Linked DNA regions of Homo sapiens: regions 1, 2, 4 and 5 are each linked to region 3. Evidence: fine-mapped expression QTL. A gene starts in region 3. Each other region holds a variant in brackets. All regions are shown on one strand. Distances are from middle to middle. Region 1 overlaps GNPTAB (N-acetylglucosamine-1-phosphate transferase subunits alpha and beta). Region 2 overlaps GNPTAB (N-acetylglucosamine-1-phosphate transferase subunits alpha and beta). Region 3 holds the start of GNPTAB (N-acetylglucosamine-1-phosphate transferase subunits alpha and beta). Region 4 has its middle 12 kb from the start of ARL1. Region 5 overlaps SYCP3 (synaptonemal complex protein 3).

Region 1 (5,684 bases), 60 kb before region 3:
ATTCTTGAGTTAAGATTCCCTTTATAAAAAGAAATTAAGTCTCTAGAAAGATTAAAATTTTCAAAGGGCTCAGCGTTCACACTCACAAGTGCTTTAAGTTTGCCTGTACCTACAGTCATTGTTTAGATCCTGCTGCGTTGACCGTTCTTACTGAGCGTATTTACTTTTTTTCCATTACTCAAGGAAAGCAGACAAGGATTCAACTCATGGATTAGTCTCTCATAACATGCTTTGATAATCTACTATGAAATAAAGTAGCACCATGCCAGACTTGACTGCAAGTACCAAAGCATGTCAAAGCTGGTGGGAAGTATGCACAGTCACTGCTTTTCTGTAACTATCAGTAGCTCATTAGTGTATTTGTGCATAATCTTGTCTCAAGGCTGAGAGACAATATCCTCTCTCTTCAAGCTTAAGGCCCTGTGATAAATTAACTGGCATAGCATTCTGAGCTGTGCATTCACCTGCTCTCAGAATTAGTGATGGGGTACATGGTTTTTCAAATTTAAAATCATTGAAAAAAAATACACTCCTCTTTAAAAATCTCTGTGCCTTTGCATATTCTAATTGGAATGTCTTTTTTAACCTAAACTAATTCTTACTTGTTCTTCTCAGTACATGTCAATTCAGATGGGCTTTCTTCCCTATCCTATCTGATTTAAGCCTCCTTTGCTCACACTCCTCAGCACCAAGGCACACCTGTCAGCAGGAAAAGCACCACACAGTCATTGATCTTGTTTGTCCCCTTGTTAAGCCACAAGCTCAACTTTGAGCCCTACAGTCTGATACAGAGGAGACAACTCAATAGGGGAACAGGAGAATGGGCCTGGTTGGGTAGCATAAACAATTACAGACAAAGTAGTTTTGTGTTATTAGCACTTACAGTTGCAGAGTTTTATAACTTCTAAGTTTACGGTGATAAGTCTCTAACTTATCACTGAACCCTTCTAACAACGCTACAAGGGTATTTGTACTTTCCTCACTATGCCAGAAAACACAGAGGTAGAGCCACTGCCCAAGGTCATCCTGAAGAGTTGGCCCCTAAGTCTGTACTCTTAACCACTTCTCCATCCCACCTCTCACAAAGTTAGAGTGCAACAGGCTACCTTAAATGAAATTACATCTATAGCTTTAAGCACTAACTTGAGTTAACTTTCTATTTTGGCCATTTTGCTGATATTCTAACCATGATTGTCTGTTTCACAGTGATTTTGCTTTTTCTGCTATCGTAGTAGAAAATTGAGATGGTTGGGAAAAAGTGTGGGTCCTGGGTGTCTAAGAATGCAGGAAAGCAAATTTCTAACTGTAGTGTTCTTACTTCTTAATTGCTGATTTCTGAGCTTAGCACTCAAAAATGATTATTTGATCTCATATATCTATATATATTTTTTTATTTTTCAAGATCCGGTTCTCACTCTGTCACCCAAGCTGGGGTGCAGTGGCACAATCACAGCTCACTGCAGCCTCAACATTCAGGCTAAAGCAATCTTCCCATCTTGGCCAGTGACCCCCTACTCCCCCCACGGCCCCCCAACACCCAAGCAGCTGGGACTACATGAGTATTCCACCGGGCCCAGATAATTATTTTACTTTTTGTAAAGACAGGGGTCTCACTATGCTTCCCAAGCTGGTCTCAAACCCCTAGGTGGTCAAGTGATCCACCCACCTCCGCCTCCCAAAGTACTGGGATTACAGGTGTGAGCCACCATGTCTGGCCTGATATTTGACTACAGTAGTATGTGCACTCATTTTCTGATTTGCTAAGTGACTTCCACGCTAGACAACCCCCCTCCTCTTAGGCACTCACCTTCTGGCCTTTGGAGTGACTGTAAAAATCATCTGGCCAGACATCCTTCCCAAACATGACATCATCATTTAGGTAAATAAACTTCTGGGACAGCCCTTCGATGCGATGAATGTGACTTTCAATAGCAGGTGAACTAAAGGTAGGCAAGTGGCTCAAATTTCGAAAAACATCCTTTTAACAACAACAAACAAAAAAAGAGAGTGAATGAGAGCTGTTTGGGTTTGGTTTAGTTTTTGAAAGGAAGGAAGGGAAGGCAATGAAGAGCTAGAGAAAGGAAGAAATGGAGGTAGAAGGGTAAAGGGAATGAAATTATGGAAATCCCTGTACCACACTAAAAGAGCAGAATTAGAAATCACAGTCTTGTAATTTTTAGAAAGTCCTGTACCTGGTGTGTTACTATTGTCACTCGAGGATTGTCAAGGTTCAGCCAGGATGGAATCTGCCCGTTGGTGACAATGAAAATATTCCGAACCCATGGTGCATGCCTCTCGATAGATCGCAATGAGTACCTCAGTTCTTCGTTATCTTCAAAACGACTGGCAGAGATGTCTTCATCCTGCTTAGACTGAGAAAAACACTTGGCATATGAAGATGTGAAATACCCCTTAAGTCATACCTCCTCCTCTTTGTCCTTTCCTTCTGCCCGTCTGCTCTCAAGGTGCTCTGGCAGACTTTTAAAGATGGAGTCCTAATTTTAAACATTACAAAAAATGCAAAAGATTCAGTATATATATTTTTAAACCCAAAATTCAAAGAGACAGCATTTCTATAACACACTTTATGAAGAAGGTTCTTGGATCTGATTCTAGGTGACTTCAGTTAATACCAAACCAATGGCAGTGACTGAAAAATTAGAAAAATTCCAATCAACTCACCTCTCTGTAAGTCCCCTTCCCTCTTCTAATATAGTAACTTACACATTTTTAACATCTTAACCTTTGATTTGGGCTGTAAAAGCTTCTGTGCATCCCTTACCTGGCTGATGGCGCTCAGATCCCATAATAAATATGCAGGACTTATGGTCAGTTCTTTTCCATCAATGGTCATGTTCTTCTTAGTTTGCTTATTCAATTCTTGAAAATCCTTGGGGTTATTCAGTTTTAGAAGCGCTACACTGGCCTCTGAATACAACTGCAACTATCAAATAACAAGAGGATTACACATGAAAAGACTGAATCTCAAGGATGAAGCACCTTTAAATTCCCACTCTGCTCTTTAATCTTTCCTTTTTTTTTTTTTTTTGAGACACAGTCTCGCTCTGTCGCCAGGCTGGAGCGCAGTGGCACGATCTCTGCTCACCTCAACCTCCGCCTCCCGGGTTCAAGCGATTCTCCTGCCTCAGCCTCCTGAGTAGCTGGGACTACAGGACTGCATCATCACGCCCGGCAAACTTTTGTACTTTTAGTAGAGACAGGGTTTCACCATGTTGGCCACGCTGGTCTCCAACTCCTGACCTCAGGTGATCCACCTGCCTTGGCCTCCCAAAGTGCTGGGATTACAGGCGTGAGCCACTGCAACTGGCCTGATCTTTAATCTTGAAATG[G/A]TAAGACAATATCAAAACACAACAAAAAGACCTACACAGACCAGATGCATTTCCCAAATGAATGTTAAAAAAATAGGCGTCTAAAAACAAGAAGGAATGGTAAAGGCAGTGGCAAACTGGACACCTCAGAGCCATCTGAGAGCTGCAACCACTCAATGGCACCAAGTGCTGCCAGATCTCCTGAGAGGCAAGAATCCCCAACTGTTGTATGAAATCTCCCCAATTTTTCAATGTTGGCTCAAATGATTTTTGACTTCTTTGCAAGTACACCTGCTGGCCAACAGTTCTGTGACTTTTCTTCTAGAATATTACCAATCTGCTTATATTGGGCAAAAAATCTGCAATGTAATTAACCTTGCTGGAATTGGTGACAAGTACATCTGCTAGTGGGGTGTCTGAACAGCTTTTGTGCCACGTGCCTGGGAGGAGCACCTTCGGCAGGACTGCCTGAAGTGCTTCCATGGGAAAACTACCTTTTGGGGCAAAGCTTTTGGGGCAATCATAAATCTAAGCGTGAACATCACAAACATCAAGTTCCACAAACAGGCTTTGCCACCCCTACGAAAGTCCACACCACTCTTTATCTGTTTTCTGTTCTGACTCTGTATCACACAACTTCCTATGAAGAGGCTTTCATCACTCAGGAAAAGGGGAGAGGCCTGAAAACCACAAATGTAGGACAGTAAAATCCTTCTGCTGAACTAGTGCTTCTAAAAGAGCTTACGGTCTTCTTTCTCAATCTATAAAACAAAGCAAACACAAATTTTATTATGAGCTTATTCTGAGCTCTTCTATTTGCTGCATGACTATTCTTAGCTCATTTTCTAAGCAGTTTCCTGAGCGTATGTAGTCCAGAACACCAGAGGTGAGAGTTAGAAATTTCATTTATATCTTTTCCCCTTATGATGTAGGCCATTAACTCTTCTCACAGATTAGGTGCAGGTGCATGTGTGAGCACCTGCAGATGCATGTAACTGTCTTCCTGACTCACCACTTTCACCTCTTTTACTTAGTGAGTGCCTGGCACATATTTAGTACTCACTAAGTTGGTTCTCACTGAGTCACCAACTTGCCTCAGCATATGTGCCGGGTGCTGGGAGGCAGGCCACACAGGGGGATTAGTAGTCTGCCTGGGTCCCTGTCTACCCTCTGGCCTTTCCTGTCCCTTTCCTCCCTCTCACAGCACCCCCAAAGCATTTCTGAGGGCTCCCTGGAGAGAAAAAGTCACTATTCTAGAACAATTTATTTACTTATTTTTATTTCTATTTTTTGAGACGGAGTCTGACTCTGTCGTGCAGGCTGGAGTGCAGTGATGTGATCTCGGCTCACTGCAACCTCCATCTCCCGGGTTCAAGTGATTCTCCTGCCTCAGACTCCCGAGTAGCTGGGATTACAGGCAAGCACCACCATGCCCAGCTAATATTTTTTGTATTTTTAGTAGAGGCAGGATTTCATCACATTGGCCAGGCTGGTCTCCTGACATACAATCTGCCCGCCTCGGCCTCCCAAAGTGCTGGGATTACAGGCGTAAGCCACCAGGCCTGACCTCCATCTCCCATTTCTTGAGGGGAATCAGTGTCTGGTTCAATCACAGCTTCGTTATCAATTTCTAGATCACTTTCCTCACTTGATAGTTCGTCTGTGCTTATGTTTTCCTCCACCTTCTTACTACCTGTTTTTAATTCCTTGATATTTTCTTCTGATTTATAATAGCTTTCTGAGTAGCACATGGTACTTCACCCCCCATGCTCTCCACCTGCTCCCTCAGAAAGCACATTTCCTTGGTATGCAGAATGCTCGGATCCTGCTTATACATTTTCACGAAGTCCCGAAGCTCGTTCACTTTGCGAAGGTCCAGGGTCGGAAGGCAGTGGGCGAAGCTGAGGGGCTGCAGGCCAGTTTCAGGCCCAGGCACTGGCTTGGCGTAACCTCGAAGAAGGGGTGTGTCTAGTTTAATTTCATAACTTGTGTTGGCTCTTTGTTTGATAAGAAGGTATATCACTAAAACTATTCTTTTTAGTGCCTAGGGTTGGTTTCTAATTATATATGCATAAAAGAGCAAGAAGAGGTTTGTCTATAGTAACTATACAATAATTCGGAAAGAGATGAAGATTAATGAGGTTAAGGTAATATTTATATGTATGAGAAAGATTTTCTGCCACTGTAAAAAGGGTGGGGAAGTACCCTCTGACAGCCACTAGGTGGCACCCCAATCCTGGACATCATCATTACTTTTGTCAGAAGAGAGAAGGTAGTGTGGGAAGAGCAGCTGTAGTTTGTGCCTAAGGCTGGAGTTTGTGGCTTGGGCAATTGTGGGCAACTGCCTCCATATAT
Region 2 (6,168 bases), 27 kb before region 3:
CTAGGTGACAGAACGAGACCCTGTCTCAAAAAAAAAAAAAAAAAAAAAAAAAAAAGGCCAGGCATAGTTGCTCATACCTTTAATCCTAGCACTTTGGGAGGCAGAGGTGGGTGGATCACTTGAGCCCAGGAGTTCGAGACCAGCATAGGCAACACGGCAAAACCCTGTCTCTACAACTCCAAAAAATTAGCCGGGTGTGGTGGGATGTGCCTGTAGTCTCAGCTACCTGGGAGGCTGAAGCGGCAGAATCGCTTGAGCCTAGGAGGTGGAAGTTGCAGTGAGCATTTACTGTGCCACTGCACTCTAGCCTGGGTGACAGAAAGAGACCCTGTCTCAAAAAAAAAAAAAAAAAAAAAAAAAAAACTGGAAAAAAATTTAAAAAAGAGCAAGGCCTTAAGGACCCAAACTCCTTCCTCTCTGGAACAGATGAGACTTCCCCTTCCTTCTTTCTTCTCTATTCTCCTCTCTTTCTCTGGCCCGCCAAAATCTGTCCCTTTAAAGTTAAAGGAGGCTGTATGAAGGAAAAAAATAAAAATAAAACAATTTGGTTAAACTAGCCTGAGTGTGGTGGCTCATGTCTGTAATTCCAGCACTTTGCAAGGCCAAGAAGGGAGGATCGATTGAAGTCGGGCATTCGAGACCAGCTGGGGCAACATAGTAAGACCTTGTCTCTTCAAAAAAAAGAAAAAATTTTTTTTAATTAGCCAGGCATGGTGGCGCACACCTGGAGTCCAGCTACTCAGGAGGCCAAGGCTGGAGGATGGCTTGAAGTCAGGAGTTCATGGCCAGCCTGGGCAACAAACTGAGATCCTGTCTCAGAACAACCAAACAAACAAAAACAAATCAATTCGCCGGGCATGGTGCATGCCTGTAGTCCCAGCTACTTGAGAGGGTAAGGTGGGAGGATCACTTTAGCCCAAGAGTTGGAGGCTGAAGTGAGCCATGATTGTACCAGTACACTCAAGCCTGGATGACAGAGCAAGACCCTGTCTCTTAAAAAAAAAAAAAAAAAAGAAAAGAAAAGAAAAAAAGAAAAAGGAAAGAAGAAAGAAAGAAATGAAAATTAAACTTATTGACAATTCCTCTAGACCCCAAATTTCTTTTGTTCTTTGGAGCAAGGCTGAACTTCGTGCCATTGCCAGGGAACTTCCAGAGGTTACTGGGGACCCTCACCAATTTGCTGATTAATTGGACATAGTAACTTAGGGTTATCAGCCAGGTTTTTCTGACCCACAGTAGGTGGTTCACATTCTTGTCAGTGAAGGTCAGGCACAACACTGGATGGTCAAGGCTCACTGCCATGATCCTGAGGGGGATTTAGACAAAAACACCCCTAAAGACTATGGATAGAGTCAAAGGCATAGAAGGAAAAAAAAACACTCCACAAGTCTGTTCTCGAGGCTCTTCCTAAAGCCTTAGACTGGAAAAACCTCCAGGCCTGTGCCCAAGAAAGAACCTAATGTACAACTATTACAGTAGGCTCCAGGCTGTATTTAAAGAAAATGTTGAATCTACTCAAGTAGCCTTTTATTCCATGTTAGTGAACAGCCTTTCTCAAGAACTCTCCCAGCTGGTCAAAAGGGCCCGAACAGAATGGGAAACTGTGCCTACCTCTGATCTAGTTAATTTGGCAAATCAGCTTGCCAGCACCCTTGAGGACAATACTAAAAAGAAAACCACTAAAATCCTTAATCTCCAGTTACGGCAGATGGAGACTCCCGGACATAACACCATGAGGAGACCTCCTGGGCTATGCCACTTCTGTAAGAAGCCAGGACTCGAAAAGAGTGCTGAAAAAGATGGAATCTCTCATCAACTTTAATGAATCTCCAGGGAATTAGGCTGAGTTTAAAAAAAAAAGTCTCAAAAGTCCAGAAAGTAGACTCAGAAAGTGATACCCCAAAGACTGGCACTTTAACATGCCAAGAGGCCTTAGAAGCTGCCTCAGAATCAAGGTCCCTCTAACCTTGTCTTCCCTCCAACAAGGGAAAAAGAAAAGATAAATGTACCATGTTCCTAGATTACAAAAAGTCTTCTTAGTTTCTGAAAACAAAATTTGTTTTGCATGGAGGCACTAAAAGAAAGACTAAGATATATTAAAGATATTTTAAGCTTTATCTTTTCTACTAAACCTCCTCCTCCTATGATATTAACCAGGAAGTAAAATCTGCTGATTGCCAGCAGCATTTCTAATCACATTCGATTAAAGACACCCATTTTCCTGATGCAAAGTGGCTTAATGCAATAAAGCACAACTTTAAAAAATTAGGAGTTCAATGGTTATTAACACAGGAATGATTTCTTCTCTTCACATAAATTAAAGGAAATGATTCAAACCGAAGATGGATGACCACTATTTAGTCAAACACTAATTAAACTCAGACATTTTTCTAGACCATGGCTACCCTCTTTGGATTCTCTACCGCAATAGACACACAACATAACAGATTTTTTAAGGAAGACAAAATGGAAATCAGGGCTCTGTCCTCAAGGAGCTGACATTCCTGTTAAGGATTAAACATTTATTTGCATGAAATGATGTAGGACTACTGTGTAGCTTTTAAATGAGTACAGATTAAAATATAATAAACACTGTTAGACAAAAGGAATAATCATGACATATTTTTCCACGGAGAGAGAGCTGAGATTTTTATGGAAATAAAGGAGTAGAGAAAAAAGAAAGATTTGTTTGCCAGTTGGGGAGTAGGGAAGAAAATTGTATTAGAAGTCAGAATTAAGAATACTG[T/G]CTAGGCATGGTGGCTCGTGCCTGTAATCCCAGTACTTTGGGAGGCCGAGGTGGGAGGATCGCTTGAGCCTGGAAGTTCAAGACCAGTCTGGGCAATATAGTAAGACCTTGTCTCTATTTAAAAAAAAAAAATTTTTAAAGTTAGCCAAGCCTGGTAGCACTCACTGGCAGGAGAATTGCTTGAGCCCAGGAGCCGGAGGTTGCGGTGAACCAAGATCAGCATCACTGCACTACAGCCTGGGTGACAGAGTGAGACTGTCTCAAAAAAACAAAACAAAAAAAGTATTGCTTTGTGCTTTGACAATGCACTCTACTATATAAAAGTCATATCTAAAAGAAAACAAAAAGAACCCTTAGCAATCACACTTGGCTAAAAGGAAAAGAGAGAAAGAGAAAAAAAAAAAGAACCAACGAACTACCAAAAATACTTTCAAAAAGTATTCAAACCGACTTTCTGAATATATCTATGTTGTTTGTTTTATTGCTCAGAGTTTTCAGAATCACCGAATTCTACAGGAAGAACTTTGAATCCAGTGCCCTACTCTGCAGCCAATGTTTGAGTTCTTGTTATAATGTCCTGGCAAATAGTTATTCTACCTATGAGGGTAGACCTGCACTGTCCAATATGGTATGTGGCCACAAGTCATTATTTAAAACGTAAACTAAGTAATATAAGAAATTCACTACCTTAATCACCTAGCCACATTTCAAGCACTCAGTAGCCACATGCAGTTAGTGGTCACCATAATGGGCCAAATAGAAATACAGATTTTGGTCACGGCACTAAGTTTGTTTAGTGCTGCAGCTATTCAAACCTTAAAGACTGTCACAAAAATACACAAGGTGGCAAGTCAGAACAACTGGACCTAAGCTCCAGTTTTGTGATTTTAGACAAGTCAACTTAACCCTAAATTTCAACTGTAAAATTTAAATAATACTATCTTATCCCCTAAGGGGTTGTTAGAAAATTCAAGTGAGCTGATAAAATATTCTGACAACTACAAAGTACTATAGGATGTATAAGGTATTAAAATTATGATACAACACTGAACTTATTACAACCCACAAGGGGCTCACAGACTACTGGGGAGACAAATATGATGCAAATAATTAAAATATATCATGTGAAAAAAAAATTACCAACATATGAACAAAAAATGGTTTAACTTGGTATATACTTTTAGTATAATTAGTAAACCAGAAGCCAAACTAGTCAAATTAAGATTTTCAAATTTTATTTTTGCAAAATTGTCATAAAAAAGTTTACTGAAATGAAGTTTTGCACAATATCTGTTTGTGAAACTTAATGTATTTACCTCCACTAACAAGTGAATTTTATTTCACACTGTTACCTAAAAATATTTTTAAAATACACCAAGAAGAGGACTTTTAAAAAATGAATTTGAAATGCTAAAAAGTCATAAAAGGTGAAAAGAATGTTTTTGTTTTTGTTTTGAGACAGGGTCTTGCTTTGTCACCCAGGCTGGAGTGCAGTGGCGTCATCAAGGTTCACTGCAGCCTTGATGTACTGAGCCTAGGGCTCAGGCAATCCTCCCATCTCAGCCTCCTGCGTAGCTGCGACTACAGGTGCACATCACTACGTCTGGCTAATTTTTGGATTTTTTTGTCAAGATGGGGTTTCACCACATTGCCCAGGTTAGTCTCAAACTCCTGGGCTCATGCGATCTGCCTGCTTCTGCCTCCCAAAATGCTGGGATTCAGGCCTGAGCCAGGTCAAGAATGTTATTTTTTTAAAAAATAGCTGCTAGGCCATTTAAAAAAATTGCTCCTTTCTTGAGGAGCAATTGGCAGTGTGTACCAAAGAAACAAACAAATAAATGTTCATGCCTTTTGATCTGGTTAATTCCACTACAAGAAACATATGCCGAGGAAATTATCATAGATCCACCCAAAGGCTTCTGTACGATAATCACCATTATTACCGATAAAAACGAAATATCTAATGTTTAGATCATTAAACATGATTTAAAAATTAAACAGGAAATTGAGTAATTATGGTACATTCATATAAATATGATAAAGCTATTAAAAAATCACATTTTCAAACAATCGTTTAAAACATAGTAACTTAATTTTCTCAGTCAATAAATATTATGTGGCATCATTCTAGATTCTGAGGACATAGCAATGACCAAAACAAAGTTTCTTCCTTTGTGGAGCATTACAAAGTAGTCAAGGGATAAAGTGTTTGATAAAACATTATATAAAAAAAGCAACAATCAAAACTATTAGTCTGGAGCTAGACATCAGCAAAATGGTGGAACAGGCTGCTACAATTTTTCTTTCCCCATGTAAACACAGACAAACAAGCCAAAACTGCCAAAATAACAACAAGAAACAAAAACACAAATATTGTATGATTCCATTATATAAAATATCTAGAACAGGCAAATCCATAGAAACAGAAAGTAGATTAGAGGCAACCAGGAGCTAAAGGAAGAGATGACTGAGGAATTTAATGGTTACAAAGTTCCTGTTTGGGGCGATGAAAAAGTTTGGGAAATAGTCAGTGGTGATGATTGCACAACTTTGTATATGTAACTAATGCCACTGAGTTATATAATTAAAAATAGCTAAAATGGCAAATTTTATGTTATATATGTTTAACCACAATAATTTAAAAGAAAAGTAAATCACTACAATACCTTCCCCCCTAAAAAATTAAGGAGCATTATGAACAACTCTGTCTCCACAGACTTTATAATTTGGATGAAATGGACCAACTCCTTGAAACACATGATCCAAAAACTCAAAAAACGAGAGAGGTCATCTGAATAGGGCTATATCTATAAAAAAATTTGAATCAATAATTAATAACCTTCCAAAATAGAAAGCCCCAGACCCAGATGGCTTCACTGGTGAATTTTACCAAACACTTAAGGAAAAAAAAAATGATACCACTTCTCTACAATCTCTTTCAGAAAATGGAAGCAGAGAGAACATTTCCTAATTCATTCTATGAGGCCAAAACTACCCTAATACCAAAACAAGGCAAAGACATTACAAGAAAGGAAACTTATAAACCACTATCTCTCATGAACACAGATGCGAAAACCCTCAGTAAAATATTATCAAATCAAATCCAACAATATATAAAAAGAATTATTTACCACAACCAACTGGGATTCATCCCAGGTATACAAGCCTGGTTTAACAACCAAAAATCAATTCATAAAATCCTTCACATCAACAAGCTAAAGAAGAAAAATTGTATGACGATACCAATAGATGCAGAAAAAGCATTTGACAATCCAACATTAATTTATGATAAAAATGTTCAGCAAACTAGGAATACAGGAGAACTTCCTCAGTTTGATAGAGCATCCACAAAAACAGTTTCACCTAATATCATACTTAGTGATGAGAAACTACATGCTTTCCTCCTAAAACCAGGAACAAGA
Region 3 (5,199 bases):
TTAGCTGGATTCTAATGCAAATGCATCCATTTCATCACCTATAAAATGGTTATAATAATAGCACCTATCCCACAGGGGTGATGTTGTGAGGATTAAATCAGTTAACATATGTAAAGCAATTAAGAGAGTGCCTGATACCTGTTAAGACCAATATAAGTATTAGCTATTATTATGATCATTATCAACTGGAGTCAGCAATCAAGGCCAAATCTGCCTAATCATGCAGCTCCTCTTTTCCATTATGCCTTACAAGTTAACCACAGGCCAGCTGCCTTCACCTCTCATGACACCTGTTGGCACTGTCTGCCTCTCATTTCTCTTGTCTGTTCCAAACCTTATGATCTGTGGCCATTTCAGGACTGCAACAAAATGTCTCTCTTTTGGTAAACAGCCAAGCATGGAATGAAAGCAAAAAGAAAAGGATATAAAATGAAAAATTCGGGCCAGGTGCGGTGGCTTACACCTGTAATCCCAACACTTTGGGAGGCCAAGGCAGGCAGATCACTTGAGGTCAGAAGTTTGAGACCAGCCTGGCCAACATAGTGAAACTCCATCTCTACTAAAAATACAAAAATTAGCTGTGCATGGTGGTACGCGCCTGTAGTCCCAGCTACTCAGGAGGCTGAGGTAGGAGAATTTCTTGAACCTGAGAGGTAGAGGTTGCAATGAGCCGAGATGGAGCCACTGCATTCCAGCCTGGGCAACAGAGCAAGACTCTGTCTCAAAAAAATAAAATAAAATGAAGAATTCTAACACCTGATGCCTTTAAGTCATCTTCACACTGCATGGGACTTAATAAACAGTTAACTCAAAATTAATCAAGGCCAAAAAAATCACACAAAAGCAATAAGGCACCTAACTACACACAGATACATTAAGTTGCAACACATGAAACAAAGACGAGCAAGTACTATAATATTAAGTACATATTTCACACTTACAAATCTGGAGCTTTCTCACCCTTATGGTAAGACATTTTTTCCCAGCCTCTAGAACCAAGAACTACTAAAAAAGTACATGCTCAGAATTCATGCCATATAATTTAGCCATTAAACAAACACTTGCACTGCATTCTCTGGCAGTACCTGGCACTGTGCTTGGGCCAGGGTTACAGTATTTACAGACAGCACCTTCTCTTACGGAGCTTACAATCCAGCATGGGTAAAGACTTCAAGCAAATGTATACTGTGGCATTTCTAAAAACTACTCTGTTAAATTTTAAAACCTTTTGTAACCTCCTACCAAAAAAAAAAAAAAAAAAGAAAAAGAAAAAAACTAAAACTAAGGAACAGATTTCAAACCACTTAAAAATACAGCTTTCCTCCCCGTTGCTAAAAGTGGCTTTCTTGGGCCAGGTGCGGTAGCTCATGCCTGTAACCCCAGCACTTTAGAAAGCCAAGAAGGGAGGATCACTTGAGCCCAGGACTTCCAGACCAACCTGGGCAACATAGGGAGACCTCCGTCTCTATTTTTAAAAAACGGTGGGCGAGGGAGCAATATCTAAAATCACATACATGCCTTTTTCCAGTTCTGACTTGCTCATAGTCTCTGCACACGTTTATGATAAAGAATACTGTATTTGGCCGGGAGCGGTGGCTCACGCCTGTAATCCCAGCACTCGGGGACGCCGAGACAGGGCGATCGCCTGAGCTCAGGAGTTCGAGACCAGCCTGGGCAACATGGCAAAACCCCGTCTCTAATAATGAAAAAATACATACTGTATCGGGGCATCGCGGGGCACGGCGAGGGCAGTGCAGGGTCGAGGCGCCCGGTCCAGGCTGCGGCGCCGCTACTCACCTCTCCGAACTGGAAGGCGGAGACGATGGTGACAACGACGCCCAAGAAGCACACGTAGAGCCCATACCTGTGGGACAGGCAGGTATAGGTCTGTCTCTGCAGGAGCTTGAACAGCATCACCCCTTCACCGCCACGCCACGCCCCGAGGAGCCTGAGCCGCCGCCGCCGCCGCCGCCGCCTCAGCGAGCCGCCATTCAGGGGCCCCGGTCGGGCCGCCGCGCGCAGGTCACAGCCTCCGGGCGCCGCTCATTGCAGCTCCGGCGACGGACGCCCGCTCGGCTCCGCGCCGCGGCCGCCGCTTCCGGGAGCCGGGAGCCCACGCCCTCGGCGCGGCGGAGGCGGACCTGCGGCCGGCGAGGCGGCCGGCGCCGCCCGGGTCTGGCCGGGCGAGAGGCGGCTGCGGCGGCGGCGGGGTCTCCAGCGCCACCTGGAGGACGGAGGGGCATAGGGAAGGTGCGCGCCCTCCCCACCTGCGCTTGCGCAGCGGGCCCTGAGGGCTGGGCTGGGAGGGGCGGAGCTGAGCTGGGATCCACTTACCCGGTTGGGCAGGCGACCAAGAGAAAACTGCCCCCTGCGTCGAGACTGTGCCATAGACGGTACTATAATGCCATGAATATTTTTGTGCATAAAACCTTCTCTGCACTTAGCATTCTCTGCAGAGTGCTAAAAGGAGATGCTGTATGTGGCTCCTTTCCTCCAACCCCCAACTATATTGTTTGAAAGAGGAAACCTTTGGGTTAAATCTGCCAAAACCGAATTTCGTTCATTCATTTAGTCGTTAAATATGTAATTTGTGCCTGTTAGGTGGCATAGTGCTTGGTGTCAGGTATTCAAAAATGAACTAGACCTGGCTACTGTTCTCAGAGAGTCTAGTGGGGGAGATAAACATGTAAACCACTAAATACAAGAGTTGTTATGATAGAAATCATGCGATGAACTGGAGGGGAACCAGCTCAGGGGTGGCCAGGTAATCCGACTTTGACAGCAGGTTTTTCCCACGAGATCCTTTCCTTGGTGCCTCTGATTTACGAAAGGGAGATCTTTTTCTTAATCCCAATGCACCCTAGTCAATAAGATTTTTTTCCTAGTCACCCTGGGAAACAATACACTTATCTAATGTTGCCATCATTCAAAGCATTTTTAAAAATATCTTGGGAACCAGCTTCAGGAAATACTCAAATTCGCACCCTCAGTTTGATGGTCAGGTGGAATTAACAGACTTGCAAAAGGGGTTAGCTTCACTCCAATCCAAGGCAAGATTTTTTACACTTTGCAGTCACTTCTTTTAATCCTTCTTTTAAAAAAGATGATTGATATATGCTATATGTACATGGCAAAAGATTATTGCAGTTGTACAAGACACATATAGTTCTGAGGTCTTTTCAAGCATGATAACAGATCTGAGGACTTAATCAGAAGGGGTAAAAAAGCATGGTAACAGATATAAAAACATCTGCCACTCAACAGGACTCTCAGGATAATGGCCAACATTTATGTAGCATCTGCCATGTGCCCAGCTCATCTAATCCTCACAATAATCTTATAATGGAGATACCATTATTATCCCCATTCTACAGATCAAGAAACTGTGATGAAAAAAAGTAACTATCTAACATCACACAAATAGTAAATGACAGAATTGAGATTTGAACCAGGTACTTAGGCTGTAGAACAGGGCCAAGATTAGGGGAAGGTACTGTGAAATGAGTCATGCAAGTTTGGAGTGAGATTCTGTCTTTGTTTATAGTTTTGATATCGGGGCTGGGTGTGGTGGCTCATGCATGTAATCCCAATACTTTGGGAGGTCAATGTGGGAGGATAGCTTGAGCCCAGGAGTCTGGGAGCCCAGAAGTTTGAGACCAGCCTGGGTAACAGACCCTGTTCCTATTAAAATAAAAAAAAAATTTAAAACGTAAAATAAAACATAAAGTTTGGGTGTTTTGCTTTTCATGGATATTCTTCAGTAATGTTTTTTGTTTTTTTTGTTTTTTGGGTTTTTTTTTTTTTTTTGAGACAGAGTCTTGCTCTGTTGCCCAGGCTGGGTTGCAGTGGCGTGATCTCAGCTCACTGCAACATCCGCCTCCTGGCTTCAAGCAATTCTCCTGACTCAGCCTCCTGAGTAGCTGGGATTACAGGCACATGCCACCACCCCCGGCTAATTTTTGCATTTTTAGTAGAGATGGGGTTTCAGCATCTTGGTCAGGCTGGTCTTGAACTCCTGACCTCAAGTGATTCACCTGCCTTGACCTCCCAAAGTGCTAGGATTACAAGCATGAGCCACTGCGCCCAACCATTAATTTTGATTTTTTAAAAATATTGCATTAGGCTGGGCACGGTGGCTCACGCCTATAATCCCAGCACTTTGGGAGGCTGAGGCGAGTGGATCACCTGAGGTCAGGAGTCTGAGACCAGCCTGACCAACATGGAGAAACCCCATCTCTACTAAAAATACAAAATTAGCAGGGCATGGTGGCACATGCCTGTAATCCCAGCTACTCAGGAAGCTGAGGCAGGAGAATCACTTGAACCCGGGAGGCAGAGGTTGCGGTCAGCCGAGATCGTGCCATTGCACTCCAGCCTGGGCAACAAGAGTGAAACTCCATCTAATAAAAAAAAAAAAAAAAATATATATATATAGCATTAAAATATTATTCCTCTTGATTAGTGAGTTTTTTGGAGTTCCCTCGGATTTTCCACCCAAGACAAGTGCTTCACTGTCCTCACTTTAGTCCTAGCCTTGCCTAGAACCTGTCCTTCTTAAAAAGTATGCTTTGTTGTAGTATGAATTACCCTTAAATTTTTCCTTTATCTTTAGGCTCCAACTAGACAGCCTCAAGGGAGGTCAGGAGCATTGTCTAAGTCCTTTCTTCTAGAGAACTTGCTCTTGTTCACTCCCTTTTCCCCCTCCTCAGGCAGTATGGTTGAACTTAAATAAAATAAATGTGGGTGCAATATGATATACCTGTAGTAGCTACCTTATACAGTTAGGAGGGTTATGTAAAATAACACATGAAAATGCTCAAGTGCCTGCGACATTTTTAGTGTTGGAAAAATTTAAGAAAATTAACATTTAGCCTTGTTCTGAAAGCAATGAGGTTTTCAGCAGGAGAATTAACTGATTAAATATGCACTTCAAGAACATTAGTAGTATGTAAATGCATAAGTTGTGGAAATTATTTTTTTAAATTTTTTGTAGAGACAGGGTCTCACTATGTTGCCCAGGCTGGTGTTGAACTTCTGGGCTCAAGCAATCCTCCCACTTTGGCCTCCCAACATGCTGGGAGCCACCTCACCTGGCCTGGAAATGATTTTAAACTCTCCACATCTGAACAGTGGAAAAAATATGCAGTAGCATCCCATTTATCTGGAAATATTTTATCTGGCAACCTAAAAGAGCCAGAA
Region 4 (6,168 bases), 410 kb before region 3:
AAAAGTTTTTAATTTTGTTGAAGTCCAGTGCTCTGGTTTGAATGTGTCCTCCAAAGTTCATGTGTTGGAAACATGATCCCCAATGCCACACTACTGAGAAGCGGGACATTTATGAGGTGATTAGATCATGAGGGCTTTATCCTCATGAATGAATTCATGTTGTTATCAAAGGAGTGGGTTTGTTATCACTAGAGTAAGTTTGTTATGAAAGCGAGTTCTGCCTTTTCTCTCAAGAATGCTCTCTTGCCCTTCCACCTTCTGCCATGGGATGACAGAGCAAGAAGGCCCTCACAGGATGCAGGCATCTTGATGTTGGACTTTCCAGCCTCCAGAATTGTGAGAAGTAATTTTTTCTTCTTTATAAATTACTCAGTCTACGATATTCTTTTATAACAACACAAAATGGACTAAGACATACAAGTTATCTATTTTTTTTTTCAGCTGGGTGTGGTGGCCCATGCCTGCAATCCTAGCACTTTGAAAGGCCGAGATAGGTGAACCACCTGAGGTCAGGAGTTCAAGACCAGCCTGGCCAACATTGCGAAACCCCGTCTCTACTAAAAATACAAAAATTAGCCAGGTGTGGTGGTACACACCTGTAATCCCAGTTACCCAGGAAGCTGAGGCAGGAGAATCCCTTGAGCCCAGGAGGTGGAGGTTGCAGCGAGCCAAGATTGTGCCACTGCACTCCAGCCTGGGCAACAGAGCAAGACTCTCAAAAAAAAAAAAATCTACTTTTTTCTTTTGTAGCTTGTGCTTTTGGTATCATATCTGAGAAACCATTGCCTAACCCAAGCTCACAAAGATTTACAGTTGTATTTTCTTCTAGGAGTTTTATTGTTTTAGCTCTTATATTTTGATCTTTTTCTATTTTGGGTTGATTTTTGCAAATCGTATGAAATATGGATCCAAATTCATTTGCTTGGCCAGGCTTGGGTGGCTCATGCCTGTAATCCCAGTACTTTGGGAGGGCAAGGCAGGCAGATCGCTTGAGGCCAGGAGTTTGAAACCAGCCTGGCCAACATGGTGAAACCTGTCTCTACTAAAAATACAAAAATTAGCCAGGTGTGGTGTTGCATGCTTGTAATCCCATCTACTCGGGAGGCTGAAGCAGGAGAATCACTTGAACTTGGGAGGTGGAGGTTTCAGTAAGCCAAGATTGCACCACTGCACTCCTGCCTGTGTGACAGAGAAAGACTGTCTCAAAAAAACAAAACAAAACAAAACAAACCCTGCCATGTGAATATCCAGTTGTCCTGGCACCTTTTGTTGAAGAAAGTAGACTTTCTCCATTAAATGGTCTTCACACCTTGTCAAAAATCAATTGATCATAGGTAATATAAATTTCTTTTTTCTTTTCTTTTTTTTTTGAGACAGAGTCTCTCTCTGTCGCCCAGGCTGAAGTGTAGTGGCGCAGTCTCCACTCACTGCAACTTCCACCTCCTGGGCTCAATCGATTCTCCTGCCTCAGCCTCCCAAGTAGCTGGGACTACATGTGTGTGCCACCACGCCAGGCTAATTTTTTTTTTTTTTTTGAGATGGAGTCTCACTCTGTTGCCCAAGCTGGAATGCAGTGGTGCAAACTCGACTCACCACAACCTCCACCTCCCAGGTTCAAGTGATTCTCCTGCCTCCTCCTCCCAAGTAGCTGAGATTACAGGCACCTGCCACCACGCCTGGCTGATTTTTTGTATGTTTAGTAGAGACAGGGTTTCACCATGTTGGCCAAGCTGGTCTTGAGCTCCTGACCTCAGGTGATCTGCCCACCTTGGACTCCCAAAGTGCTGGGATTACAGGTGTGAGCCACTGCACCCAGCCTCTTTTTTTCTTTTTTCCCTTTTTTTTTTTTTCTTTTGAGATGGGGTCTTGCTCTGTTACTTAGGCTGAAGTGCAGTGGCATAATCTCAGCTCACTACAACCTCTGCCACCCGGGCTCAAGTGATCCTCCCACCTAGGCTTCTGAGTAGCTGGAACTGCAGGTGTGCACCACCACACCCAGATAATTTTTGAATTTTTAGTAGAGACAGGGTTTCACCATGTTGCCAAGGCTGGTCTTAAACTTCTGAGCTCAAGTGATCTGCCTGCCTTGGCCTCCCAAAGTGCTGCTGGCATTGCAGAGATGAGCCACCACACTTGGCCCATCTTTTTTCTTTTTTTAAATAATTTTAACTAATTTTACAAAAAAAAAGTCAGTATTCATTTCACATTACTACATTACAAGTTTATTTCTGAATTTTCTTTTTTTTTTTTTTTCTGAGACAGAGTCTCCCTCTGTTGCCCAGGCTGGAGTACAGGGACACAATCTTGGCTCACTGCAACTTTCACCTCCTGGGTTCAAGTGATTCTCATGCCTCAGCCTCCCAAGTAGGTGGCATTACAGGTGCACACAACCATGCCTGGCTAATTTTTGTATTTTTAGTAGAAACGGGTTTTCACCATGTTGGCCAGGCTGATCTCAAACTCCTGGCCTCAAGTGATCCACCCACCTTGGCCTCCCAAAGTGCTGGGATTACAGGCATGAGCTACTGTGCCCAACCTCTGAATTATCAATTCTAGTCCATTGATGTATATGTTTATCTTTGTGCCAGTACCACACACACCGTGTTGATTTTTTTTTTTTTAATTTTGAGACAGAGCATTACTCTGTTGCCCAGATTGGAGTATGATGGTGCAATCATAGCTCACTATAGCCTCAAACTCCTGGACTCAAGCAATCCCCCTGCCTCAGTCTCCTGAATAGCAAGGACTATGAGTGTGCAACACTATCCCTGGCTAATTTTTTAATTTTTTGCAGAGATGGAGCCTCACTATGTCGCCCAGACTGGTCTTAAACTCCTGGCCTTGAGTGATCCTCCCACCTTAGCCTTCCAAAGTAGCTGTTGATTATAGTAGCTTTGTAGTAGGTTTTAAAATTAGGAAGTGTGAGTCCTCCAACTTTGTTCATTTCCTACTTTGTCTTGGCTATTCTGGGTCCCTTCCATTTCCATGTGAATTTTAGAATCAGTTTATTCATTTCTGCAAAAAAAAAAAAAGGCAGTTGGAATTTTTATAGGGATTACATTGAATCTGTAGATTAATTTGGGAAATGTCTTAGCTTTTTCCTGCTGCTATAACAAACTACCTTAGACTGAGTAATTTATAAACAATAGAAATTTATTTATCGTTGTTCTAGAGCTGGGAAGTCCAAGATCAACACACTAGCAGATTTGGTGCTTGGTAAGGATTGCTATCTGCTTCCAAGATGGCGCCTCTTGGTCCTTTCTCATATGGTTGAAGGACAAAAGGCATGGAGCACTCCTTTCTACCTTTTTTTTTGAGATGGAGTCTCACTCTGTCAGCAGGCTGGAGTGCAATGGCAAGATCTCGGCTCACTGCAACCTCCGCCTCCCAGGTTCAAGCGATTCTCCTGCCTCAGCCTCCCAAGTAGCTGGGACTACAGCACGTGCCACCACACCTGGCTAATTTTTGTATTTTTAGTAGGGACGGGGTTTCACCATGTTGGCCAGGATGGTCTCGACCTCCTGACCTCGTGATCCACCTGCCTCGGCCTCCCAAAGTGCTGGGATTACAGGCATGAGCCACCAC[G/A]CTCGGCCCCCTTCAACTTTTTTAAAAATAGTACTAATCCATACATGAGGTCAGAGCCCTTGTGAATTAATCCCTTCAATAGAAGTCCTACCTCTTAACACTGTCACATAAATAGAGTAGTTTCCCCTTATCTGTGGTGAACTTTTCGAGGTTTCACTTACCCATGGTCCACCTCGGTCCAAAAATATTAAATTGAAAATTCCAGAAATAATTCATAAGTTTTAAATTTCTTGCTATTCTGCGTAGCATGTTAAAATCTCACACCATCCTGCTCTGTGCTGTCCTGGATGTTAATTTTATCCCTTTGTTCAGCATATCCCTGCGGTATATGCTACCCACCTGCTAGTCACTTAGTAGCCATCTCAGTTATCAAATCAACTGTCACAGTATTACAGCGCTTGTGTTCAAGCAACTCTTGTTTTGCTTAATAATCACCCCAGGCTGGGCGCGGTGGCTCATGCCTGTAATCCCAACACTTCAGGTGGATCACCTGAGGTCAGGAGTTTGAGAACAGCCTGACCAATGTGGTGAAACCCCGTCTCTACTAAAAATACAAAATTAGCGGGACGCGGTGGCTCATGCCTGTAATCCCAGCACTTTGGGAGGCTGAGGTGGCAGATCATGAGGTCAGGAGTTCAAGACCAGCCTGGTCAACCTGATGAAACCCCGACTCTACTAAAAATACAAAAATTAGCTGGGCATGGTGGTGTGTGCCTGTAATCTCAGTTTACTCAGGAGGCTGAGTCAGGAGAATCACTTGAACCCCGGAGGCGGAGGTTCCAGTGAGCCGAGATCGTGCCCCGCATTCCAGCCTGAGCAACAGAGCAACACTCTATCTCACAAAAATAAATAAATAAATAAATAAATAAGCCGCGTATGGTGGCGCATGCCTGTAATCCCAGCTACTAGGGAGGCAGAGGCAGGAGAATCACCTGAACCCAGGAGGCAGTGGTTGTAGTGAGCTAAGATTGCACCATTGTACTCCAGCCTGTACGATAAGAGCGAAACTCCGTCACAAAAGAAAAAAAAAAGAAAAGAAAATCACCCCAAAATGCAAGAGTAGTGATCCTGGCCATTCTGATATGCCAAAAAGAAGCCTTTGCTTTTTCCAACCCTCCCTTCCATATTACTCATTTTCTGACTCCCATGCTTTGTACTCTGATGCAGTACTCTTAGTAATCAGCAGTGAGGAGATCTAGTCCTGGGCGCTCCAGAGCATTGTCATATACAGTTTGATACTATCTGCAGTTTCAGGCATCCACTGGGAGTCTTGAAACATATCCCCCATAGATAAGGTCAAGAGGAGGGTACCGTGTTGAATTCCAACATATGAATTTTGGAGGGATACCTACGTTCAAACCATAACAGGAAGTGCTGTCATCTTAACAACATTTATGGGCCAGGCACAGCAGTTTGTGCCGGTAATCCCAGCATTTTGGGAGGCCAATGCCTGGGTTTTGTAGGCCAAACCCAGGAGTTTGAGACCAGCCTGGGCAACATGGTAAAACCTCATAACTATTTAAAAAAAATAAAAAATTAGGCTGGGCGCGGTGGCTCACGCCTATAATCCCAGCATTTTGGGAGGCCAAGGCAGGCGGATCACGAAGTCAGGAGTTCGAGACCAGCCTGGCCAACATAGTGAAACCCCATCTCTACTAAAAATACAAAAATTAGCCGGGCGTGGTTGCATGCGCCTGTAGTCCCAGATACTTGAGAGGCTGAGGTGGGATAATCGCTTGAACTTGGGAGAAGGTGGTTGTAGTGAGCCGAGATCATGCCATGGCACTCCAGCCTGGGCGACAGAGTGAGACTCCCTCTCAAAAAAAAAAAAAAAAAAATTACAAAAATTAGCTGGGCATGGTGGCACACACCTGTAATCCTAGCTACTCAGAAGGCTGAGGTGAGAGGATCGATTGAGTTCAGAAAGTCAAGGTTGCAGTGAGCTGTGATCACACCACTGCACTCCAGCATGGGAAACAGAGAGAGACCTTGTCTGAAAAAAAAAAAAAAAAAAAACCATAAAAAACAATATTATATAGGCCAGGAGTGGTGGCTCATGCCTGTAATCCCAACACTTTGGGAGGCCGAGGTGGGTGGATCACCTGAGGCCAGGATTTCAAGTTCAGCCTGGCCAACATGGCGAAACCCCGTCTCTACTAAAAATACTAAAATTAGCCGGCGTGGTGGTGTGTGTCTGTAGTCTCAGCTACTCGGGAGGCTGAGGCAAGAGAATTACTTGAACCCAGGAGGCAGAGGTTGCAGTGAGCTGAGATTGTGCCATCACACTCCAGCCTGGACGACAGAGTGAGATACAAATACATATATAAATTTTTTTCAATGTTTTGGAGTTTTCAGTAACAGGTATTACAGTTCTTTGGTTAAACTTACTTATTTTGTTGAGACAAATGGTTCTTAACCTGACATTCTGTTAATTCACAGTAGACTTCTGGGAGCCTGCACACCTATTAAAGTTATTTTCAGAATTTTATCTCTGTGTGTACATGCATTTTTTTTTTTTTTTTTGAGATGGACTCTCGCTCTGTCACCCGGGCTAGAGTGCAATGGCGTGATCTCGGCTCACTG
Region 5 (6,168 bases), 97 kb before region 3:
ACTTAAACAGAGAACTATGACTGAAGTGTTATTAAAGTATGGATTTTATGCATGATAAGTATATTTCTAAGTAAAATTCCCAATTTACCATTTCCTGTCTTGAATAATCCCAACAAAACCATTTGAATCCTCAAGTAAAAATATATTTATCACTTAAATCAGAAACAATGAATTCAAAATGGAAAAGTAGTTAAAGTCTAAAATGTTTTTTCCCATAAACTTAGAAAGAATTATCTTCTACTTCCATAAATATATTATGTTTTATAACGATGTATTGTGTTACCACATACAACAAACCTTTATGAACTGCTCATATAACTGTTTAATTGTTTTCAATCTCTGGCTCTGAACAATTCTAGATTGTTGAAGAATCTTTTGTTGCTGTCGAAACATATTCTACAAATATAAAAGAAAAAAAACTGTGTAATAACAATTTGGGTAAAATTTTAAATTTAGAAAAAATAATTCTACATTAAACTTAAAAGAAAGTGTTAAAAATCAATGCTTTTAAAATTTTAACAACTATTATGACCACATTTAGATAATTTATGTTCACCACTAATATGTAACAATATATTAATTCTACCAGTTGCTGAATGGGAAATTTTAACAATAATCAAGTCATGTCTTAATTCTTGGTGATTTCAATGTCCACACAGATGATCCTTCCAATAATAATGGTTTTCCGTTTCGTGACCTGTTTCTCAATGATTTTGGCCTCTACCCTACTTTAGCCATTGACTTACATACTCCCACCCTAGATTTTGTCATTACTAATAATTCTAACCACTACACAGTATTAGTAATGGTAAACTTTCTAAGAGATAGATACTCAGCATTCCCCTTTCATAGATGAGTAAACTGAGGCATAATCTGTCCATGGTTTCACAGCTACAATTGCTCAAACAAGAATTTGATCCAAAACAGTATTGTTGCTGGCATCCAGGCTCTAACCATTATACATACTGTTTCTCTGTCTATCCTAGTATTTAACCACTACTTCTTTACCATTCTAACTTACTCTTTTTAGTACTACAGCTCAATAATCTATCAGTGCCACAAATCCATCCTATCTATTTTACACTGTCATCCCTACCCCCAATATCCTCACTTGCAGGTAACACAAGTCTGGCCATTAAAAGTCAACAATGTTCTGACTACAGACATCCTTAGGTATCCTGGGGGGACCAGTTCCAGGACACCCAACCCCTCAGGAGACCAAAATGTGCAGATGCTCGAGTTCCTGTTACAAAATGGCATCATATTTGCATATAACCAATGCACATCCTTCCACATACTTTAAATCATTTCTAGATCTCTTATAATACCTAACACAATGTAAATGCTGTATAGTTGTAACACTGGATTATTTTTCCAATTTGCATTTTTTCTTTTTTCTTTTTTTTTTTTTTTCAAGAAAGGGTCTCCCTCTGTCACCCAGGCTGGAGTGCAGTGGCACAATCTCGGCTCACTGCAGCCTCCGCCTCCCAGGTTCAAGTGATTCTCCCGCCTCAGCCTCCTGAGTAACTTGGATTATAGGCACACGCCATCACAGCCCGGCTAATTTTTGTATTTCTAGTAGAGATGGGTTTTCACCATATTGGTCAGGCTGGTCTCAAACTCCCAACCTCAGGTGATCCACCCGCCTCGGCCTCCCAAAGTGCTGGGATTACAGGCATGAACCACCACCACGCCCAGCCTTTTCCAAATATTTTTCATCCACGATTGGTTGAATACACAGATGCGGAACCCTTATATACAGAGGGCTAACTATACAATGATTGGTTCAAGAATGGGCAAATGATCCAAACTCCCATCAGTCATATTTTCCCAGAGGAATTTTTTGCCAGAGCTATTGAGAAAGATTTTCTCAGTCCACTGGGGTTACTAAACTTGTAATAAGCCTAGGACTGTAAAAACTATCTTGCTTACTACATCAAGACACCTTACTAAGTACTGATGACAGAACCCAGATGACACTACATGAGCAACCCCCTCCCTGTTCCCATCTGGCTATGCCTGAAGCTAAACTGCCCCGACTTCTTTTACATAAACCAATGATCCTTCTTTTGTACTTTGACAAATTTCTGTCACTTGGAAATGCAGGAACCCCAAACAATATAAATGCCTTTTATGAGTATGGTATGTGCCTATACGTCTGTGGTTTACAGTTCAGTAGGTTTAAAACACATGGCCAGCAATGGTTAATGAAACCTGGCTCAGTTCCACTGGTCACAATAAAAGGCTAGGTTGTCCATTCCTACTTGAGACTTGGTTGATTATAAACCTAATCATGATACCAACAAGTATTTTTTCTTCTTGTTCCTCAGCTTTCTGCATATCTAAATCCCACTGCTGAAACAAAGTCAGAAACTGCTGAGAATATTCTTGGTTAAGCTTCTGCCTGTAAAACATAATGATGAATTATTGTCATATTTCATACCAATATAAAAAGAATTTAAAACAAAACTGAGTTGACACAGTTATACTATATAAGAAAAGGAAATACCTGCAGCTTAAGTCTTCTGATGGGAAACCAAAAAGTAAAATTATGATTTACACTGATTCCAGAAGTATTTTTTTTCTAACAAACTAATAGAAGAAAAGCCCTGTCACAAGCTTTAGCTCTTGAAAACTAAGGAAGTTTTATTGTATATATAAATTT[T/G]CAAAAAGAAATTCATCTGATCTCTAAGCAGTTTATTTTTCATTTTTTTCCTATTGAATATAGATTCTGATATAACAAATACATTAAATAAGGTGATTGTATTTATCCTATAAGATTTCTAAATAGAAATAGTTCGCTTAATTTTTTTCCCTATTTTGGCTTAACAAAAGATTTTATACAAAAGAAGAGTTAAGTCAGCTAAAACATACAAATTATATACGATACAAGATTGGTGTTCTTCTACATTGTTGAACATAATTCACCATCATAAGACTAACGGTTTTTATGACATTTACCTTTTATTCAACTAGTGTATTTCTAGAATGAACATAAATTACTTTTAGGCTGGGCATGGTGGTTCATGCCTATAATCCCAGCACTTGGGAGGCTGAGGTGAGAGGATCGCTTGAGCCTAGGAGTTCAAGACCAGCCTGGGCAACATAATGAGACCCCCATCTCATAAAACAACAACAAAAAACGAAATTACTTTTATAACCTCACTTGTTACCTAAAAGGAAAAAAGTGATCTTTATTGATTTTTTAGGAAATAATGTCAATTCTATGAAGGAGTGAGGTTATAGGGCTACAGGACTATCATACTTAGAGAAAAATCAAGCCAAATACATTTTCACTAGAAACCCCAGTAACTAGAATAGTATTTTTCTTTTCTTGTTTTTTTTGACAGAGTCTCACTCTGTTGCCCAGGCTAGAGTGCAGTGTCACGACCTTGGCTCACTGTAACCTCTGCCTCCTAGGTTCAAGCGAGCACGCCTGGTTAATTTTTGTATTTTTAGTAGAGATGGAGTTTCACCATGTTGGCCAGGCTGGTCTCTAACTCCTGACCTCAAGTGATCTGCCTGCCTTGGCCTCCCAAAGTGCTGGGATTACTGGCATGAGCCACCGTGCCGATCCTAGAATAGTATTTTTCATAAGTAATTTATACCAGTAAATACTAAGAAATGTGGCTCTAAAAAAAAAGCAACCACCTTACCTTTGATCTTGTTGTGTTTTCCAAACATGTTCAATTTTCTGGTTACTAGTTTTGAGAGAAGCCTTGGTATACATTTCTAGTCTCTTTCTCTTGGCAAGAAGAGCCTTGTTAATGTCAACTAGATTGAAAATAAAAATTCATTAAAATTTAATGTTGAAAAAAGTATTTTGTTCCCACATATTCAAGTAAATATGGGTAAGGTTGGTTCAACAATATTGGAAAGACATTTAAACTTAAATTTAGAAATAGGCATAATTTCAAAATGCAGAATTGTTTGCTTACTTTTTTTTTCTGAGAAAACTCTCAGCTACTAGCACCCAAATTCTGATTTTCCTAACTGGAGATAATTTTTTAACTTAGGAACAATAAAAAAGAGCTAATAAACAAAACAATGTGTCAAGGACAGACTTTAAATTTCCCCATGAGAAAACACTGTTAATAAAGGCTAAATGTAGGCCAGACGCGGTGGCTCACACCTGTAATCCCAGCACTTTGGGAGTCTGAGGCAGGCAGATCACAAGGTCAAAAGATCGAGACCATCCTGACCAACGTGGTGAAAGCCTGTCTCTACTAAAAATACAAAAATTAGCTGGGCGTGGTGGCGCACACCTGTAGTCACAACTACTTGGCAGACTGAGGCAGGAGAATCGCTTGAACCCGGGAGGCAGAGGTTGCAGTGAGCTGAGATTGCACCACTGCACTCCAGCCTGGGGACAGAGTGAGACTCCGTCTCAAAAATAAAAAAAAATTTTTAAAAAGGCTAAATTTATCTAAATTTATAAAATACACCCCAATTAAAAGGACACATTTCAATGAATTATTGTTAGAACTCATTATAGAAAATATGTAAAAGTACTCTATTAGAAAGAATCCAAAAAGGATAAAAATAGTTAAAGAAGAAAACTATTTTTAATATAATCAATTTTATATATATATATATATATATTTTTTTTTTTTTAAAGACACGGGGGTCTCACTATGTTGACCAAGCTGGTCTTGAACTCCTGGCCTCAAGCAATCCTCCTGCCTTGGCCTTCCAAAGTGCTGGAATTACAGGTGTGAGCCCCTGTGCCTGGCCATCAATGATACTTTTAAATACATTTTTTACTAAGAGACAAAGACCAAGGACAGAAAAAAATCTTAGTTTAAGTAAATTTCTAGATAAATTAAGATCACTTTATTTTTCAATGAGAAATAGGTGAATAAGATCAGTTTTAAATGCTTTTGTGGAGCTCTTTATTGGGCATTTTTACCCATAAGAACTGCATTTCATAAAATGTTTACTACTTCAAATAATGCTTTGCTAAACATAAGCCTTTATCTTATGGATCTACCATAAATAGGTATCTTTCAGTAATCATGCTGTAGCTGCACTATTACATAAATATTTTATACTTTCAGTATTATCTATAATAAATTTATAAAACAAGCACTGTTTCACCACCGGACAGAGCAAAGGTTTCAAAAAAGAGTTGACTGTATGAACAATCCATTTAGAGGAGCTAAATATTAACTCTTTTTTAAGATAACTAATCTCTAACAAAGCTCATATTATTGATACTTAATATATTATTTAAAACTTGAGAATTTTTGAACCTAATTATAAAACTCTATCTAGCAAAATTGTCTTTAGTATCAACTACATAGTTTATTAATGTAAAAAGAGTTATTTTAGAGGCTTAATTTACACTGTCCTCCCTAAAGAAAATAGCATAGGAAGTCAGAAAATAACTAAACTGAAAAAATGAAAAACTTATATACAAATATATGTATGTATGTATATGTGTGTGTGTGTGTGTGTGTGTGTGTGTGTGTATCACTTAGTCTGTGAATACAAAGAAGGGTAAAGACTTTTCCTGTGCATTTTTCTTCTAAAATTCCATAGTCCATTAAATTCACATATGTATAAAATACCATTCACTCTTAACATCATGGAAAAGATTAACTATGAAAATCTGTGATGCTAAATCACAAATACTTATGCAGAATCTTCTATGTGAGAACAAGGCATTAAATAACAGTCTTATAGTCCATTATTAACATTTGTTATTATACAAATTATATGGCTTAAAACAATTTTCTTTAAATACAAGTATCTCCTAAAACCTACCTCCAACTCCTTCCAGCATATTCTGCACTTCACCCCTGGAAAGAAATTACATTTTAAACACTTTAGAAGATCCACAACATACCATGCTTGTTTTGGAAGAAATACCAGATGCCAAGTATTTTACATATATTATTTGTTAGCAACTTTTCTTGAAGTGCTTTATCTAAGAAACAAAAATTATTTTGAACACGTTACCCCATATCTTCAACTACTCCTGCAGAAGACCTTTTCTTCCTACGTTTCTCAATGACTGCAGTCTTCCCTGTATTGACAATTAAAAAAAAAAAAAAAAAGCTTTTGAAACTGAATAGGTTATTTTGGTAAATTTTAATGAAACATCTTCATTTGGGGATTTTTAGGCTTTTTGCCAACATACAGTTTCAAAGCAGACATAAAAATGCA

Evidence for each region. PIP is the estimated chance that this variant, and not a neighbour inherited with it, causes the effect.
Region 1: its variant is fine-mapped to the expression of GNPTAB in blood mononuclear cells (TOPMed, PIP 0.93).
Region 2: its variant is fine-mapped to the expression of GNPTAB in spinal cord (GTEx, PIP 0.92).
Region 4: its variant is fine-mapped to the expression of GNPTAB in lung (TOPMed, PIP above 0.99).
Region 5: its variant is fine-mapped to the expression of GNPTAB in whole blood (INTERVAL, PIP 0.96).

Annotation. Positions count from the first base shown.
Region 1 is chr12:101,768,214-101,773,897 of GRCh38, forward strand. GNPTAB (N-acetylglucosamine-1-phosphate transferase subunits alpha and beta) reads right to left here. Exons shown (of 21, transcript NM_024312.5): 8 at 2,783-2,944; 9 at 2,193-2,372; 10 at 1,808-1,978. It also overlaps the pseudogene ST13P22. Among named protein-coding and RNA genes, the nearest start is that of SYCP3, 32 kb to the left of the region's middle. The variant G/A (reference allele first, on the strand shown) is at 3,351.
Region 2 is chr12:101,801,205-101,807,372 of GRCh38, forward strand. The region is part of intron 1 of GNPTAB (N-acetylglucosamine-1-phosphate transferase subunits alpha and beta); the gene reads right to left. Among named protein-coding and RNA genes, the nearest start is that of GNPTAB, 27 kb to the right of the region's middle. The variant T/G (reference allele first, on the strand shown) is at 2,747.
Region 3 is chr12:101,828,762-101,833,960 of GRCh38, forward strand. It overlaps GNPTAB (N-acetylglucosamine-1-phosphate transferase subunits alpha and beta), which reads right to left and starts at 2,198. Exons shown (of 21, transcript NM_024312.5): 1 at 1,798-2,198. The coding sequence starts at 1,914. RefSeq lists silencers at 1,330-1,624, 1,981-2,380.
Region 4 is chr12:101,416,747-101,422,914 of GRCh38, forward strand. No RefSeq gene overlaps it. Among named protein-coding and RNA genes, the nearest start is that of ARL1, 12 kb to the left of the region's middle. The variant G/A (reference allele first, on the strand shown) is at 3,586.
Region 5 is chr12:101,731,271-101,737,438 of GRCh38, forward strand. It overlaps SYCP3 (synaptonemal complex protein 3), which reads right to left. Exons shown (of 9, transcript NM_001177949.2): 3 at 5,962-6,028; 4 at 5,767-5,801; 5 at 3,657-3,774; 6 at 2,305-2,404; 7 at 298-396. Among named protein-coding and RNA genes, the nearest start is that of SYCP3, 5.1 kb to the right of the region's middle. The variant T/G (reference allele first, on the strand shown) is at 2,666.